Regions from separate parts of the Homo sapiens genome. Here region 1 is linked to region 2. Evidence: fine-mapped expression QTL. A gene starts in region 2. The other region holds a variant in brackets. All regions are shown on one strand. Distances are from middle to middle.

Region 1 (5,391 bases), 78 kb before region 2:
GACTTTGCAGAATCTGAATGGTCTCCACTATTTAGTCCTTTCTTTTTCTGTAAATTAATAGGTATTGTTAGTATTAACTGGTATTACCAGTGTTACTTTAAAATGTTTTCACAGAGTAATCTGAATTGGCTGATCCAAATACTTCAGTGCCTGCAATGACATTCTTCTTATCTGCAGGAAAATTTCTACTCTTCCTCAAAACTTAAATACCATATCCTAAAGGAGACTTCATGGATAAAGTGTCCCTTGACTTTTCTAGGGAACACTTTGTTCACAGGCCTATATTATTAGTATGTATATTATATTATATTAGCAGTTTATAGATCTGTCTTCCACAGTGGAAGATAGAAAATTATAAGCTTTTTTCCCCAGGGAAGAGACAATATGCAATCTTCTTTGTGTGTTTTAAAACCAGCAGTGCCTGGTTCATAGTAGGTGCTTAATAAATGTGTTCTAAATGAACAGATAATTCTGTAATAAATTGAAAAAATATATATTTAAAACAGTATTTTGTCTTCCTTTGACCCATAATCTCTAAATTTCATACTGATTAAAGCATTAGCAAAACAATGACTCATTTGGACTATAAAGGCTTCTTATAAGTTTCAGGGCAAACAGTGGAGTGATCCTTGATCCTTTTCTTTCCTTCATAGCTTTTATCTAATCCATCAACAGATCTTTTTGGTTTGCCCTCCAAAATATATCCACAGTCCAGAAGCCATAATCATTTCTTGCTTTGAGAATTTTGAAAGCCTCCTAACTGGTCCCTGCCTCCACCCTTGCTATTCTGTTTCCTGTTCTACCCACAGTAGCCTGAGTGATCCTTTAAAAAAATTACGGATCATGTCCCTTATTTGGGCAGAACTGTTCAAGAATGTATCATCTCTTTCAGAACAAAGCCCAAAGTCCTTATCATAGTCTATCCGGCCATGCATAAGCTGGCCCTGCTACCTTTGTGATCTCTTCTTCCACTTTCTTCTCACTCAGTTTGCTCCAGTACTCTCCCAGCCCCTAGGGGATGGTTTCAGGATGAAACTGTTCCACCTCAGATCATCAGGCATTAGAGTCTCATAAGAAGTGGGCAACCTAGATCCCTTGCATGGACAGTTCACAGTAGGGTTTGCACTCCTATGAGAACCTAATGCCGCAGCTGACCTGACAGGAGGCAGACCTCAGGCGGTAATGCTCTGCAGCTTTGCATTTGCTGTTCCCCTTGCTGGAAGCTCTGTCCCCAGAGAGCCACATGGCTTGCTCCCTCACTTCATTCAGGTCTCTGTTCAAGTATCACTTGACATGATCAGAGAGACCTTTCAAAATAGTCACTCCCACCTCTAATCCTTACCATGTTTTATTATTTTGCTTGACACTGATTCTTCTCAGCATACTATTTTCTAATTCTTCTCAGCATACTAATTTCTAATTAGAAAATAGGCTTCGTGAAGGAAGGGACTTTGTTTTGTCCACTGTTGTATCCCACGTTCCTAGAATAGTGTCTGGTGCAGAGTAGGTACCTCAATGTTTAAATAAGATGGGGAAAACTAATTTATATTACTAAATATTATCAAATAAGTAAATGAAATATTCCTTTATAACATTTATCAGTTAATGTTAAAAAGGGAAATAGGAGCATAAGAACCCAAAGCATACAGGAATATAGGGTCAAACACAGTATTTTTACAGAATAACAATTTCTGAGGACTCAAAAAAAAATCCTACAAGACACAGAATTTTACTGCTGAATGAACCTGGAGAGATGATGTAATTCAGCCCACTTGCTTCATAGCTAAGGAAATAGGAGGTGAGGCTCAGTCCAGGATTCCTTATTCCTTGTCCAATGTTCTTCCACTTTTAAACCCAAGTTCTTCACAAATTTGGCATCCCTAACACATGTATTGCTATATACATTACAACCATTTTCAGAGAGGTTTTTTGGCTGTATAACGTCACAAGTAAACCTCTGTAAGTTTTATCCTTTTCAAGAAATCAACACCTATCTTTTCCTGCCATTTAAATAATCTGATATTGTAATTGTACACAGCATTATTATTTATTCAACAGATAACAACATTCAATGAAACTTCATCCTGGATAGAAAAGCAAGCAAGCAATCAACCAACCAAATGCCAAAAAATTTGCATTAGTCTTGTGTCTATAGCTGTACCTTAACCCAGCAGTCCCCAACCTTTCTGGCATTGGAGACCAATTTCTGGGGGAGGGATGGTTTCAAGATGAAACTGTTCTACCTCAGATCATCAGGCATTAGATTCTCATAAGAAGTGCACAGCCTAGATCCCTCACATGCACAGTTCACAATAATAGGGTTTGCACTCGTATGTGCTGCTGATTTGATAGGAAGCAGAGCTCAGGCAGTAAGGCTCCCTGGCCCGCCACTCACCTCCTGCTGTGCAGCCTGGTTCCTAATAGGCCACAGAGAGCTACTGGTATGTGGCCCAGGGGGGTTGGGGACCCCTGCCTTAATCCATTATATTCCAAAATCCCTATACTATTGGCTAAATACTCAAAGAATTATCAGAGTTATTTTAGGAACCAATTGGTAGATATTATTACTCAAGTAATGGTTGAGTCACAGATATCAAATATGGAAGGTTAATTTACATTACAAACGACTGTATTTTGCTTTGCTGTAGAAAACACAGGTCTACCATATCCTGAAAAGTAACCCAAGACATCAGATTCAGTATAAAATAAAACCTTGAAGTACTGTGAGTATAATTGTTTTGGCACCCACGTTAGATTAAGTGACTATTTAAAAAAACTTAATGAAATGAAAACAATGCTGGGCATATTGATTAGATAACAGAATGCTTAGAGATCTGGAAATTAAACTGGCAGAAAACTGTATTTATAGCAGTGCCCTACCTCTTCCACCAATGTCTGTTGGAAAACTGCACGAATGGAAAGACAACACTGATGGAAATTCTTTATTAGCTGAGGGTGGATAGAGCCACTTAGCTGTGCCACCTCTTCAAGGGTAGGAGTAATAAAGATTCCTTGCACTGTTTCTAAGGCAACGTAGTGGAAAAGTGTGTTCTCAGGACCAGATGTCAGTCTTAAAAAGAAAAAAAATCAAAGAGAAGAAAAAAGAAATTTTAG[T/C]AAATTTTAAAATATTGGTTCATTTTGAATTTAGTAGACTTCTTATAAGCTTTTATCTACAATATAATATTAGTAGTATAATTAGGGAAGGGAAACTGGGCTAAACATTTAATTCCCTCTTCATCCGTAACTGAAGTACAAGCTAGGGTTATTAATTCCCTTAATGGAGGCAAATACTACATGTTATGCAAGGATAAGTAAACCTCAATTCATTTGCAAGTAACTTAATCATTCCTTTGCTAAACAACCCAAATTGGCTAACTGTCTCTTTTTCCATGGTTGGTATTAAATAATTCAGCTCGTGTCTGGCCCAGATAGCTATAAGCCATAAACAAGATATCAGTCTAGGGTAGACCACATATAAAAATACCTTCCAACAAATTAAATACATTTAAGTTAGTAGCATTAAAGTATTTTACCATGATAGTCAAACTGATGTTCCTCAAGAACTACTGGAATGCAGAATGGGTAGGACTTAGTTACTGAATGAAATGTTTTATATATTATTTTCAATATATTATATATATTGTATTTTACAAAGATAGGTGCATAAAAGGTTAGGATAATATATTACATCCTGTTTTATATCATGCTTTTAAAATGAACTACATCATATAAAAACATCTTTGCATGTCAATAATGAGAATAAACACACATCTTTGGCACCTTTTAAAATAGGAGAGCCTATGATTTACACCACATGTGAATTTATGTTTAAACCATTGAACTTGAAAAAAGAGTCTCCTTTTACTAGAGACAATGCCAACACAACATACATATTTTTAAAATTCTGATATGGAGTTAATAAAATTTCAGAGCAATAGTTTTTGTTAAATGGAAGACTAGAGTTTTGTGAAGGTACTTTTGGGTTCCATAAAAGGTTTGGTTCCAATTTATTTGTCTTAAAATCATGTTTAACTATCAAAAAATTAAACATTCATATTTGGAGGCATTAAATACTAAAATTTAACACATCAGATTTCTAATGTATTATTTTATGCAGACAAGTTACTTTGTTTTTGTCTTGACTTGAGAAAAAAAGAATTTTCTAACAACTTTGTAACACATATATTTGAACTTACTGTAAAGTGTTTCAGTGATTAAGAATGTGGTAGCTCTGTACTGTGTGTGTGTGTGTGTGTGTGTGTGTGTGTGTGAATTCTATTAGTACGTGTCTAGTTGTTCAAATAAAAGTAGGCAATTGAGTTTATTACACCAGTTGATCCCACACATGATGTCATAATTAAATACCTGCCAAGGCACAGGCAGACCTGCGTGTCACCACATAAGTGCACAAGAAGTGAATATATAACATTTCATATTATAATAATTACAGACAGTTTAAGTTGCTAAACATTCTCTCCTCACTCAGTTTCTTTTACCTCAGAATTCCCTACTCAATGAACGTTTGAAATTATACCTATTTTCTAAAGAGAGTGTTATGGGACAAGTTCCTTGGGACCCAAACTCTGAGAGTGAGATATGCCGGGAGGAAACTTATTAGGAAGTACTCTTGGGAAAAACAGCTGTAGGGGTGTAGTGACTGAGCAGGATTGAGCAGAGGGAGAAGATGAACTGTGCTGCAGCGGCAACAAGTCTCAGCCGATACCACTGTGTACTCTGAAGCTTGGCTGGCCTTTCAGAGTTGTCTTCAATTTAGGCAAGGGGCCAAGCCTTTGTACTCACTTATTTATTAGTCATTAGAAATGGGCTCCTCCCAGGGAGGAATGTAACCTTAGCTGAGTCAACAAGTTTCCGTGTAGGACACGGCTAGGGGAGTGACAAGGCTAGGGGAGCTGTGAGGCATTAGCAGCCACCATTCTCAAGTGTTGGAAAGGAATACCCTGAGCTAAGGTGTAACTGGACAGCACACCACTGCATCCACCAAACACTCTAAAAAATAGTAAACTCTAATTTAAAAATTATATTAAATATACAAAAGGGAGGTTACCTGTGGAGAGATAAAGGGAGACTTTCACATTTTGAAATATTACTTTGTGTGTTTTTCTCTTTCATAATACTAATATGGTCATTTTCCTAAATGTGTAATGAAATATTAAAGAAATACCACAGATATTACCTTTAATATGTAAGATATATCAGAATTACATTTGTTGAGTAAAATACATGTTATAAAATTGTACTTTCTCACTGTAAAACTTCCTGAGTTTAAGTGAACAAGAATAAGAAAGTTTCTTACTTCACTGTGTTATATATTTCTAATTCTTTTTCTGGAAGGTCCTTTTTCAAGTTTCCCAAATGAAATGGATTTGGAAG
Region 2 (5,391 bases):
TCAAAGTAATTATGCTGAATAAAAGAAGGCAGACAAAAAAGAACATTCATACTGCACAATTCCATCTTTATGAAACTTTAGAAACTACAAACTCCTATAGAGTGACAAAAAGCAGATAAATGGTTATCAGGAGAGGCATAAATGGACTTAAGTAGGTACATGGGGAGACTCTTAGGCGAGATGGATATGTTCATTTTCTTGACAGACGTATACATGTTAAAACATCAAATTGTACATTAAAAATATGTGCAGTTTTTTGTATATAAATTATCCTTCAATGAAGCTATTTTTAAAGTCCCAGAAAAAAATTTAAAGGACATACCTCCCTTCTCCAGCCAATCCTTGTGTTTTAGGTGGAAGTTCCTTAGCTTTAACAGCTAATATCTCATTTAAAATGATTCCTGTTTCTCTCCATCAGCCAGTTTTAAAACTGATGTAACAACAACAAAAAATTCACTTTGAAAAATTAAAAATCCAAGTCACAACATTGACAAACTCTCTGTAACATGAACTAGGCATATTAGCTGGTAACTTGGCATTGTTGCAGGTGAATGTGTGATTTCTGTTATCTTAATGCTAAAACTAGCTAATGGCTCCCTCAACCCAACCAACCCACCAGTATTATCTCGGAAGCCTCCCAGGGTATGTGCCCATGTGTCAACTTAAGACATACTGCAGCAATATAAACTCTTATTCTCTAACAAACCTAAAACAAACCTATTAAAAGAACTCTACCAGAATTTACCATAATGTAATTTTATCTCCAAGATGATAAACTTTTAAATTCTATATTGACAATCACATACAGCTCAGGTACAAAGCATGTATGAAACAGTAACTTCTAAAAAGAACACGCAGTTAACTAAAACCTTGAAAATTCAGGATACTTTATGTGAGTCAATATGCAGTACAACTTCCTTAGTAAGCTTCACGTAGTCCATGAAATACAATAGGAAATTCATGTCTTTGCTTTAATGAGAAAGACTAAGGTTGGCATTCCTGTGCCTTTGATTAAAGAGTGGTTCTGTACAAGTTGGGAAGGCCACTGTTTGTAATGATGACTGCAGCTTAGGGAAGTAAACATCTACCATAAGGGAAGAACCGAACATAAGCCTTCCTGGTAAGTTCAGCAAATTAACCCTCATGTCCTACAAATCAAGAAGGGACAGACTTAAAATTTGAAACTTGGTAGGACTTGAAATACAGACCAGCAAAACATCTTATGATAGGGATTTTCTATACTTTTATTATTAGGAGGATAAAGACACTAGAACATGTGGCGTGATTAGTGACATGTGAAAAGCTTAATGATCATTTTTTAAAAGCTAAAATATAACATACATACATGTATTTTGAATCATGAAATACTTTTATTCTTTTAAGTGACAAGTTCTCCTATCACAAGGTCCTCAGATTGGTCATTTCCTAGGAAACAAAGTTCACTATTTTAATCCCATCAAAGTCATGGTGGCCCATTAGGTATCAGGCGTCTTGAATTCTCACACTGACAACACTCAGCTGTGCAACTATACATGAATCATAGATTCTTTCTGGGCTAAAAGTATGCGACTCTAAAATGTGGAGAAGCCAAGAGTTTGAGTCTTACACTGTCTATGGCTTCACATACCAAGACCAAATAAGGTTCTATGTAATTCATATTTCCTTCCAGCAGCCTTGTGTAATAATCATGAATTTTAAAATTATTTTTTTAATGCCTACAGCAGATTACAAAAAAATACGATATTTTAAAATTTGTTTAAGTCTTCAAGAATGTATTAAACAGGTTTCCCCACCATACTTTTAAAGGCAATGATAAAAATCTTTTACATACTGATAGGTAAAAACAATTGCCAAATAACAGTTGCTCCTACATACATATAAATGATTTGTAACTGTTGTTCCTAAATACACATAAAATGTCATCCTAAAACTGACCAGGTATGGTTGTCCATTACTGGGTTAGTTGACATTTTGGCACCAAAACTTTTTCACGATTAGTCATTCTCTTCAAGCTACTGCTAGTTGACTTTTCTAAAGTTCTTAATCCATAGCAGTAAGGGGTAGATTTTTCTTAAAAATGAAGTAGCACTGAATACTGTGAATCAAAATAACCTTTTCATGGCATTATTAAGAAAGTGAAACCTTTAGGTATCTGTATTTTTAAAAATTAAATTATGACGTAAAATGGAAAACAAGAAAATCATGGAGATGCATAGGAAAATACAGCAGAAATATCCAGAAGTGCTGAGAGGTTGTCCTTGATGGTGAGACTATGGGTGGGCGTTCCTTCTGTTATATAGCTATTCATTTCCATAACAGAAAAAATCTACATAAATTTAACAACTGCCTTATAAAACGCGTAGGGTGTCTCTCCACTCCAAATACTAAAGAGATTAAGCCACAAAGGTCACACCAAAGAATCAAGACACTGCGATCGAAACAGAGTTTTTTGAACGCTGTTACAGATATATCCTCCTATGGCCTAGACAGAGCCCATGACCAAAAAGAGGAGATTCTCCTCATCTAAGAATCATTGAAAAAACAAAACAAAACAAACAAAAAACAACCTACAGTAGCAAAGAATGGCATCGTCATTTCTGCTCACACCACCATACAATGGAACGTGGTGCAATTAAATCCCACTTATTATAGAACCCCAAATACTCGATTCCAACCACGCCAACACCCTTGCAGTTCCCCCAGCCCACGTGTATATTCTCTGGATTGATGGGATGGGATTAATTGTCCCTCTTTGAAAACCTTACTCATAATCGCTACTCGCTGAGGAATATGAACCCGAGTCGCTGACCCGATCTTCAAAATCATAGTCCTCATCTTCTTCTTGTGAAGAGGGGTCTCCAGGGAGCTCGTCTGAGCTCGGACGCGAATCGCACGAAGCCACAGAGGCCATCGTCAGGAATGCAATAGCTACGAGTGGAGTAATTCAAATCTCGCAGCTATAGCTTGCTAAGGCCGCCATGTTGCCTCTGCTTGGGAAGGGGCAGAGGCCATGTGACCACCAATCCTTAGCTGCAATTGGTGGCAGGTCGCGTTGCCAGGGAGACGGAGAAGCTTCCCAGAAGAAACAGGGAGAACAGAAAGCAGCCAATGGGCTGAAACTTCCAGGAGGGCTTCTCAGTTGGAAGGATAGAAATAGCTAAAACTTCACCGCTTACGCTCTCCGGAACGCAATTCCTTAGAGCAGCATAACCTGTTAAAACAGGCGGAGATGCACTGGGCTTCTCACCTTTTTCTTCCAGTGCTGGATATCCAGTTTGCTCTTTGTCCTGTGTTTCTAATGCCTAACAGCTGTCGGTCAGCCTGGATTTCCTTCGAGGTGAAGGAAACCGCACTTTACCTTTCCTTAGGACCTCATCCGTGCAAGTAATGGACGCTTTTAAGCAACGCGATCTAGGTGTTAATGTAAATACGCTCCATTGTTTTATGGGTTTCATATTGTTTCGCAATTGCAAACATTTTCACGGTTATCCCAAGTGGGTATTGTAGAGTGCCACAAATGAGTGGCAATCCTGTGGAATCAACTTCATGTTCATTTTCTAACTCAAAATTTTATAATCTAATTAAGTGTTCTCATTATTAAAGTTGGAAGTGTAAACAGGTAAAATCTACCTGTTATTTATGAATACCTATATCAAGTATTTTTTAAGTACAAAAATAACAGCTAGCATTGATTGAGAGTCAGCCTTGGCTCTGCTCACTTTATTCATATACAATGCTGAGCATTCACATACTATGAAGTAAATATTTTCTCTATATTAAATAAGGAAACTAAGCTTTAGAGAAGTTATGCATCTTACTAATGGTTACATGGCTAGCAGTCAACAAAGTCAACCAAGAAATGAACCTAAGTCAATAACCATTACATGAAATTTCCTCCCTCAGAACCCAGTAATTCAACTATTAGATATCTACTCTGAGAAAGGATGCAAATTTATAAAATTTGTAAAAGTGAAAAGCTGAAAGCAATCTTAAAATGTCAAATAATGGGGGAAAAGTTAAATATATATAAAATATGATGATTATGATTTTAACTAGAATGTGTTCAAAGAGTAAAGCATGGGGGAAATGTTCATGTTGCAGCGTGTAAAAAAAGGATATAATGTTATTTTATGATCTAAAAGGCTGGGTGCTGGGGATTCTCTAATGGGCAATTATAACATAGTGATAAGTATTACAATAAATACAAGGTTCTAATGGAATATCCAGAAAAAACCAAAGTAGTATACGTGGGGCCATGACAAATTTCTTAGAGGAAGTATTAATTTATATTGTTATTATGGCATGGTTCCAACAGAGAAAGAGTAATGGGAGATGAGTCATCACATGGCCGGTATGGGTATATGCATGGAGAACTCAAAGGAACCTGAATTGTAGCTGTTGCAGGGGCAGAAAAACTCTACCTCCATCTTCTTAGGGTCCCAGCTGGGCCTGAGAATTAAACTTACCTAAAATAGATTAACAAAAGAAAAGCAACTGGAACTTGTTATACAGATGTTGAGGCCCTGCTCCACATCAACAGGATCAGAATCTCCAGTGGAGGGGCCTGGAAATCTCTATTTCAAACAAGTGCCCCCTGTGATTCAGCAAACTTGGGGAACTGCCCTAAATTTTCTCTCAGTTCTGTGCTTCATCTATACAGGCCAACTGGCCATTCCCTGAATAGGCTGGAACCCACTCCCACCTCGCAAATTTGAGCCTGGCAGACAGACCTCTCTCCTTGCTCTAGAATCCAAGTTTTACATGGCAGGGGAGCCCTCATAAAGAAATGAAGACCCAAAGAAGCAGTTAGAGTCAGTTAACTTATATACTGGATTGGACAAAGAATAGTTAGTTGTGAAGAAGCAACTAAACTAAATTGGGAAGCTTAAAAGATAAGTTATTTTAACAAGGTCTGTACAGAATTCTCTTGGTTTCACTTCTATGCCCTTGAGAATAAGAATGTTACATTTTTCTAGTATAGGGAGGGTGTCTTTCACATGGGAGCTTCATCTGTTGCTTTTAAGAAGCAGCACAAAGGCACTTGCTGTTTTTCAAGTGTATTAAACTTAAATGGCCAGGATAGTATATTTTACCTTCCTCACAGCCAAACAAGCTGCAGTATGCAGCTTATACTTTTAAGCTGAAGTTTAGTTGTATTTACATTAACTGTACATTACATGTACAAATATACATTAAACTATGTACATTTGAATTTGTATATTACATGTACAAATGTACATTAAACTATATACATTTGAATTTCCTAGGTTTTATGGTTTTGTTTTAATTTCTAAATGTGTTTTTATAGTGTTATAACAGCGATTACATTTTGTAATTTATTTGTATTAATTCATAAAATTGTTTTCATCTTATATAGGAGCTATAAAGCAC

Which allele goes with the higher level. Positions count from the first base shown, and alleles are read on the strand shown. Sizes are in standard deviations (SD) of each study's normalised expression.
With allele T in place of C in region 1, the expression in esophagus mucosa of the gene that starts at base 2,989 in region 2 is lower (small effect, 0.21 SD a copy in GTEx).

Evidence for each region. PIP is the estimated chance that this variant, and not a neighbour inherited with it, causes the effect.
Region 1: its variant is the best candidate, but not a certain one, in a credible set for the expression of INTU in esophagus mucosa (GTEx, PIP 0.50).

Annotation. Positions count from the first base shown.
Region 1 is chr4:127,708,592-127,713,982 of GRCh38, reverse strand. It overlaps INTU (inturned planar cell polarity protein), which reads right to left. Exons shown (of 16, transcript NM_015693.4): 13 at 5,315-5,391; 14 at 2,881-3,070; 15 at 1-47. Among named protein-coding and RNA genes, the nearest start is that of SLC25A31, 19 kb to the left of the region's middle. RefSeq lists a silencer at 4,735-5,029 and an enhancer at 4,477-5,391. The variant T/C (reference allele first, on the strand shown) is at 3,115.
Region 2 is chr4:127,630,555-127,635,945 of GRCh38, reverse strand. It overlaps INTU (inturned planar cell polarity protein), which reads right to left and starts at 2,989. Exons shown (of 16, transcript NM_015693.4): 1 at 2,766-2,989. The coding sequence starts at 2,911. RefSeq lists enhancers at 2,960-3,139, 2,802-3,341.